Linked DNA regions of Homo sapiens. The protein of the gene in region 1 purifies or fractionates together with the protein of each later gene. This does not show direct contact. Each region holds a gene or a part of one and is shown in the gene's direction. Other genes may lie near its edges.

Region 1 (3,817 bases):
GGAGATGAATGAAGTCAATTGATGAAGACTAGTAGAATGTAGTGTTGGTTTTTTTATTTGTTTATTTATTTATTTTGAGACAGAGTCTTGCTGTATTGCCCAGGCTGGAGTGCAATGGCACAATCTTGGCTCACTGCAACCTCTGTCTCCTGGGTTCAAGCAATTCTCCTGGCTCAGCCTCCCAAGTAGCTGGGATTACAGGCGCGTGCTGCCACGCCCAGCTAATTTTTGTATTTTTAGTAGAGACAGGGTTTCACCGTATTGGCCAGGCTGGTCTCGAACTCCTGACCTCGTGATCTGCCCACCTTGGCCTCCCAAAGTGCTGGGATTACAGGTGTGAGCCACCGCGCCTGGCCGACCTGTCTCTTAAAGGAAAACAAGGCTGGGCGCGCTGGCTCATGCCTATAATCCCAACGCTTTGGGAGGCCAAGGTGGTGGATCACCTGAGATTGCAGTGAGCTGAGATCGCGCCATTGCACTCCAGCCTGGGCAACAAGAGCGAAACTCCACCTCAACAACAACAACAACAACAACAAAAGGAAACATGTTTTTCTGTTTCTTCCTCTTAGCCTTGCTCATGTGTGTGTGTGTTTGTGTGTGTGTGTGTGTGTCTGCGTGCCAGCCAGGGAAGAACTGGTTTTGATTTGATGCATATTCAGTTTTTTTTTTTTTTTTTTTTTTTTTTTTTTTTTGAGACAGAGTTTCGCTCCTGCTGCCCAGGCTGGAGTGGAATGGCGCAGTCTTGGCTCACTGCAACCTCCGCCTGCCGGATTCAAGCGCTTCTCCTGCCTCAGTCCCCCAAGTAACTGGTACTATAGGCATGCACCACCACGCCCAGCTAATTTTTTGTATTTTAGTAGAGATGGGGTTTCACCATGTTGGTCAGGCTGGTCTCGAACTCCTGACTTCAGGTGATCCACCCACCTCGGCCTCCCAAAGTGTTGAGATTACAGGCATGAGCTACCACACCTGGCCGCATGTTTAGTTTTTTAACTCTTATTAATGTCAACTTTTAAAAGTAAAAATTTCATATTGTGTTACATTGGTTGCCATCAAGATGAAGATAGGGAAGTTAAGAGTTGGGGAAGGTGGAGATGAATGAAGTCAATTGATGAAGACTAGTAGAATGTAGTGTTTGTTTTTTTATTTGTTTATTTATTTATTTTGAGACAGAGTCTTGCTGTATTGCCCAGGCTGGAGTGCAATGGCACAATCTTGGCTCACTGCAACCTCTGTCTCCTGGGTTCAAGCAATTCTCCTGGCTCAGCCTCCCAAGTAGCTGGGATTACAGGCATGTGCCACCTGGCTAATTTTTGTATTTTTAGTAGAGACAGGGTTTTGCCATGTTGGCCAGGCTGGTCATTTACTAATTCCACCTCACACTTGATACTAGAGTAGTGTTTACCCTAGCTGGTACTGATAAGTTATGTGATAGCACCAAGGTGAAATGCAGGAGAGGTGTGAACATTGGAGTTTTCAGGTTTTACTGATGGCTTTTACGAAGGGAAGAGATTCTAGACTCACTAGGTGTTTTTAGGAAAAAAAAAAGGCAAGAGGCAAGAGACAGAAGTCTTGTTCTGTTGAAGAGAAAATTTTTTTTTGGGTTTTTTTTTTTTTTTTTTGAGACGGAGTCTCGCTCAGTTGCCCAGGCTGGAGTGCAATGGCATGATCTCTGCTCACTGCAACCTCCACCTCCCAGGTTCAAGCGATTCTCCTGCCTCAGCCTCCTGAGTAGCTGGGTGCCATCACGCCTGGCTAATTTTTGTATTTTTGTAGAGACGAGGTTTCACTGTGTTGGTCAGGCTGGTCTCGAACTTCTGACCTTGTGATCTGCCAGTCTCGGCCTCCCAAAGTGCTGGGATTACAGGCGTGAGCCACCGCGCCCGGCCCGAGAAAATTATTAAATGTTCTTTCTTTACTTGTGTTCTCTGATTGGGAGAGTAACCTGGTATATGTTAGTCTGTTTTCCTGCTCTGAAATAACTGTGAAATTCATGGGCTCTTGGTTCAGGCAGCTTCAGCAAACATAGTCTTCTTACAACCCCAGGAAGAGTTGCAGGCTACAAAATATATGTACTTATTTGGGAGTAAAAACCTGCTTAATATTATGCTATTGCAACCTACAGTGTACCTTTTTGGTTTGTTTTTTAAGGGGATTTTGAGATAACATATGGAGGCTCGGTGCTCCTGGGCGGACTTTTGGTACAGCCTGCTTATTTTTTTTTTCTTTTCTTTTCTTTTTTTTTTTTTTTTTTGAGACGGAGTCTCACTTTGTCCCCCAGGCTGGAGTGCAGTGGCGCAATCTCGGCTCACTGCAAGCTCCGCCTCCCAGGTTCACGCCATTCTCCTGCCTCAGCCTCCTGAGGAGCTGGACTACAGGCGCCTGCCACCACGCCCGGCTGATTTTTTGTATTTTTTTTTTTTTTTTTTTTGTAGTAGAGACGGGGTTTCAACTTGTTAGCGAGGATGTCTTGATCTCCTGACCTTGTGATCCACCCGCCTCGGCCTCCCAAAGTGCTGAAATTACGGGCGTGAGCCACCGCGCCCGGCCCAGCCTGCTTCTTTAACATAATGATTTTCCATTTTTCCTATCCTGTCACAGTTTTCCGTTGCTCTGCTTGAGCCAGTCCTATGTAGAAAGTGGCAAATTACACATTTTTTCTCCCCTTTTAGTCTCTGGTGGACATCTTGTCTGTGTCACAGTTTGATACTACCAAATTGAAAGGATTCTTCACTGCTTCAGATGGGGAGGGTGACAGAAGCTGAGCTGTTTCCTGGGTCAGATAATGGCCTCTGTCAAAGCAAAGAATAGTTGTAGAGACACAAACTGGGCCCTTGAAGCTGTGACTAACATTTTGGCAACATGCATCCCTTTGCCAAATAACTTCTTTTCTTCTTGAGTGTGATTGTTGATCTCCTTCTCAAAGTAGGCTCTTGTTGCTACTATTCTTCACACAACTCCCAAGCAAAAGTTGGCAGAGTTCCGGTTGACTGACTGTGTCTTGAGGGATATGCCCCGGATTAGAGTGGATGGGGCGTTCCATGTCAAAATGAGGTTCATTGGCAGATCCTGAGAGCTGCTTTGCAAAGAAATAGAGGCAGTACTCTTTACTGAATGTTCTTGCGGTCCTTTATCTTTCTTCTAAATTCAAGTCTGTTTCTTATTCATCTAGTGATTAAATGCAGAATCATTGCCTTTGCCTAGCTTCGTGGGCATTGTGGAAGAGAAGACAGTATTTCCAACTTTTTTTTTTTTTTTCTTTTCTCACAAGCCATTGAGCCTGAGGAACTACAGGCTAAATTTATGAGCATTTCTTGATATCTACAGAGGGCTACTAAAAAAAAAATGCTGAATAGACCTTTATGGGGAACAACAATGTTAATAGGAAAAAAAGGTGATATGTTTGCTAATGTCTATGTCAGTCTTAACTCTCTTTAAGATTTTGGCTCATTTTGGCTTAAGAGCCTGCAGAAGTATGTAAGTTATCAAATAGGGGAGCCAGGAATTGGTTTCTTCCTTGCCATTTAAGCTTGGCAAAGTTAGAGCAATTTGGAATGGCTATCCAACAATGTGTTCTACTTAGTAAATACTCTCTTGTTTTTCAGGGGATAGTTAGCTAAAGGTAGGGTTATCTCCAATATGTTTTGGGATGGATCGTGAAGATCATTCCCTTTTTATTTTGAGACAGGATCTCTCTCTCTTGCCCAGGCTGGAGTGTGGCGGCGTGATCTGTAGCCTCGACCTCCCCAGGCTCAGGCTCAGGTGTTCTTCCCACTTCAGCCTCCTGTGTAGCTGGGACTACAGGCGCACGCCACTA
Region 2 (3,817 bases), on another chromosome or scaffold:
CTTTTTTGGCAGAGTGCTGATTAAATGCAATATAAAACTTCTGTTGTGAAAAAATACTGTCAGTGGTTATACAGTCTGCTTTGGAGGCTGGCTTTTGCTAACAGCAGTCAAGTTTGTTTATTGTATTAATCTTACAAAGTTAAGGCCAAATTCTCAAGTTTGGCAGGTGAATCTATATTTGGCATTTTGAAATGAGCTCCATCCTTAAACTGACCACATTAGTTTGCCCGTGATGCCTTTGTTTGGGTTTTTGTTTTTGGTTTTGGTTTTTAAATACAAAATTACTCTGACCTTGGAAGAATAGTCTTGGGTTAGAGCTAGTCTGCATTTATTATTACTTAGTAGGCATTCTGTGATTCACTGCTATTTGCCTTTTCTGTGTCATTTTCTTATTCCCCCTTCTTCCCTTGTCTCAGGAGCCGTAGTTCATTTTTCAGATGTGGCCAAAGAAATGGCTGACACCCTCCCTCTACCCCATACAACTATTCCCCTAGATTATTCTTTATCCTCATGACATCAGGATAAACATTAATGTTGTCACAGTAGCAGTAGGTAGAATATTGTTCGTTTAGTCTAATATTAGGCTATTTCTCCCAGTAGATTCATTGCTAATGCAATTGAATTATAAATTTGGGCAGAGTTTTAGAGAAAATTGCCATTAAATCAATCAGCTTGTTGTAGGAGCTTGTCTATATGCTAATAGCATTGGTGCTGGCATATTTGGGCAGTAATTTCAGCATTGCATACATAAATTTGCTATTGTTACATTTGGATTAATATTAAAACCTGAGTTTATAGTGTTTCAGGTGTAGTTGAATTATATGTAAGTAGATATAAATTTTGTTATTTTTGTGTTAAAGAACTAGTGGCAGTGTGGGCTTTAGTACAGTAATGTATTTTTTGTTCATTGTGAGAAATTTTATTGATGCCATGTGTACACTGAAACTTAAAGCCTTTTTAGGTGGAGAAACGGTGGGACTGTTTGTAGATGCTATCTCTGTCGATAGTGGATGCCCATTTTAGATAAGATTCTTGTTCTGCCTGTGGAATCCTTAATAGTTTAAAATCAATACTTCTCGAGTAGTTTCTAAAGACTGTTTGCCGATCTGTTTTTAAAACCAAGGTTTAAAAAAATCTTTCAAGTCTTCCTATGATGTTTAGTGCACCTGTGAAAATGGTAAAATGATTGTTTTGGAATTTTTGGATCTGACGTTGATTTAGGGATGAATGGTTTGAGTTTTATTTGTCAAAATTTGCTGTTTTTATATCTACAGGATTTTTTTTCCTATAAGCATAAAATCAAAGTTGGCTACTGTTATTTACTGTGATGTAATGAATTTGAACTGCCCTGATTGAAAAGTTTGCATTTAGGAAATTATAACGTGGAAAAACTGAGCATATGATTAACATCTCCCAGCTCTTTAAAACAGAATTAGGATTTTGTTTTTAGTACTGGCTGTTACCAGTGTTTTAAAGGAATTTCTTGAGTGAAGCGATCATTTTACAAAATTAGAGAAGCAAGTAGTATGGTGATTGGCAGGAATTTCTCAGATTTGAATCAAGTTCTGATGTTAAAATGGAAGATTCTGTTTAAAGCTTGTATTTTCAAGGAATACTTATAAACATTTTTATCAGGCATCTTCCTGTTTCTCTTAAATACTTCCTTTTTTGACTTAAAAATGTTAGCCAGTGAATGCTTGACAAATTTGTGTTTTTGTCCTTTTCAGTTGTCACTCAGCCCAGTCCATCAGTTTCTCAGCCCAGTACTTCTCAGAGTGAAGAAAAAGCTCCTGAATTGCCCAAACCAAAGAAAAACAGATGTTTCATGTGCAGAAAGAAAGTTGGTCTTACAGGTATTACAAAACACAAGACAATGTATGTTTTACTTCTGCAGTTAACAAGGAGCTTTTGGTCACTCCCTAAGAGACTAGTTGGTCTTACACATAAAAAAAAAAAAAAAGCCTGACTAGCTGTAGTCTAGGAAAGGTGGAGGAGGTGGTATTGGGGTGGAAAGAAGTTGGGTTTTACTTCCATTTGTCTCCTAATCATATAAAACTATTAACTCAGGCCCTCTTATTTTATTAGATTGATAAAAAGTTTTTGTATACCTAGGGAAAATGTTACTGAACTAACAGTAAGCGCCACCTACTTTGAGCTATGCAGGGAATGTTCTTGGTGCTTTTTTTCTTGTCTCCTTCAAATCTCAGACCTTGATGGTTGTTTTCACTTGAGGAAGCATTACTTAAGATATGGTAGGACTGTGTTTTGAATCCAGCTTAGCCTAACTCCAGAGCCTGTGTAAATTTTATCCTGCGTTGCATCTACAGGAGTCGATAGAGGGAGAGCATCTGGGAGAAATTAGCTGGCAGATAGCCCATTTTGTTTTCTCCACGTGGTTTGGCTTACCAAACACTTCGCTATTGCCCTTGCAAGGAAAGACTGAACATAGTTATTTGAATTTCTCACCATGTCAAAGGAAGTTAAAAGTTCCTTTTCCAGGTTAACGTGATAGACTCTGTAAGAGTTGACTGTGTCTTATCACCAGGAAGTGGAAGAAAAGAGTTCACTGTCTTTTATGTTACAAAGCAATGAAAATCTGGTTCCTTTTCTATAGTGACTAAGGCTTTTTTTTCTTTTAATTGCCTCAAGTTCTCAAATGACTCTACTTCTTCGTTTGTACAGGGTTTGACTGCCGATGTGGAAATTTGTTTTGTGGACTTCACCGTTACTCTGACAAGCACAACTGTCCGTATGATTACAAAGCAGAAGCTGCAGCAAAAATCAGAAAAGAGAATCCAGTTGTTGTGGCTGAAAAAATTCAGAGAATATAAATTACTTCTTGTGAAGAGACTGAAACTTTGTTTTTATTTTAATATATCGTAGGAAAACATTAAAGAGCAGATGCATGGCCATTTTTCTTTGATGTTCTCCAGAGTTTTACATTACACTTGTCTGTCTTATAATTGATATTTTAGGATGTTTGGGTGTTTGTTACAGGCAGAATTGGATAGATACAGCCCTACAAATGTATATGCCCTCCCCTGAAAAAAATTGGATGAAAATCTGCACAGCAAAGTGAAACACACAGATAATAGGAACAAAATGTAGTTCCCATGTGCCAAACAAAATAAATGAAATCTCTGCATGTTTGCAGCATATCTGCCTTTTGGGAATGTAATCAAGGTATAATCTTTGGCTAGTGTTATGTGCCTGTATTTTTTTAAAATGGTACACCAGAAAAGGACTGGCAGTCTACTTCTACCATAGTTAAACTTCACCCTCTTTAATTTCACAACATATTCTTTGGAAGCAGGAAGAAATGCTCATAAAGAGGATCAGACCTTCTTTCCCGTGAAACCAGTATTTGGCGCCATATATAAGCCTGGTTAAATTGGTCATCTAAAGCTGTCAAATAAGACATTCTGTGAAAGGTAAACATCGAAACTGGTTATAAGTAAAACCATCAAGCCAACAACAGGGTCTTGAGATAACCTTTGAAGCTTATTGTACTGGCCTGCACCAGAAGATGTCTGCATTACTCATTGCTAAAAATGTGTAGCACAGAACTGCACTAGGATTAATTTGTTTACAAGAAGAAATTTAAACTCTACGTTTGGTTTTCACATACAGCAGCTCTATTGAATAACATGCATCTGAATTTTAAGTTGCAAAGGTATCTGAATAATTTTTCATGTGCATCTTTTGTCGAATGTTTTGGTTCAAGAAAGAATGTTTAAAGCTTTTTAAAAGACTTCAGTTCTTAATGTAACTGTACCCTTCTGCATGGAAAATCATAACCAACATGGCTGCAGTAGAC

What was found.
Region 2: the proteins of WIPF2 (region 1) and ZFAND5 fractionate together in Homo sapiens (co-fractionation; one large-scale study listed by BioGRID). This does not show direct contact.

The regions. Positions count from the first base shown.
Region 1 is NC_000017.11:40,221,996-40,225,812, forward strand, and holds part of WIPF2 (WAS/WASL-interacting protein family member 2), read left to right. Parts: intron 1-3,817. UniProt on the Homo sapiens protein: Plays an active role in the formation of cell surface protrusions downstream of activated PDGFB receptors. Plays an important role in actin-microspike formation through cooperation with WASL.
Region 2 is NC_000009.12:72,354,967-72,358,783, reverse strand, and holds part of ZFAND5 (AN1-type zinc finger protein 5), read left to right. Parts: intron 1-1,727; coding exon 1,728-1,853; intron 1,854-2,682; coding exon 2,683-2,831; 3' UTR 2,832-3,817. UniProt on the Homo sapiens protein: Involved in protein degradation via the ubiquitin-proteasome system. May act by anchoring ubiquitinated proteins to the proteasome. Plays a role in ubiquitin-mediated protein degradation during muscle atrophy.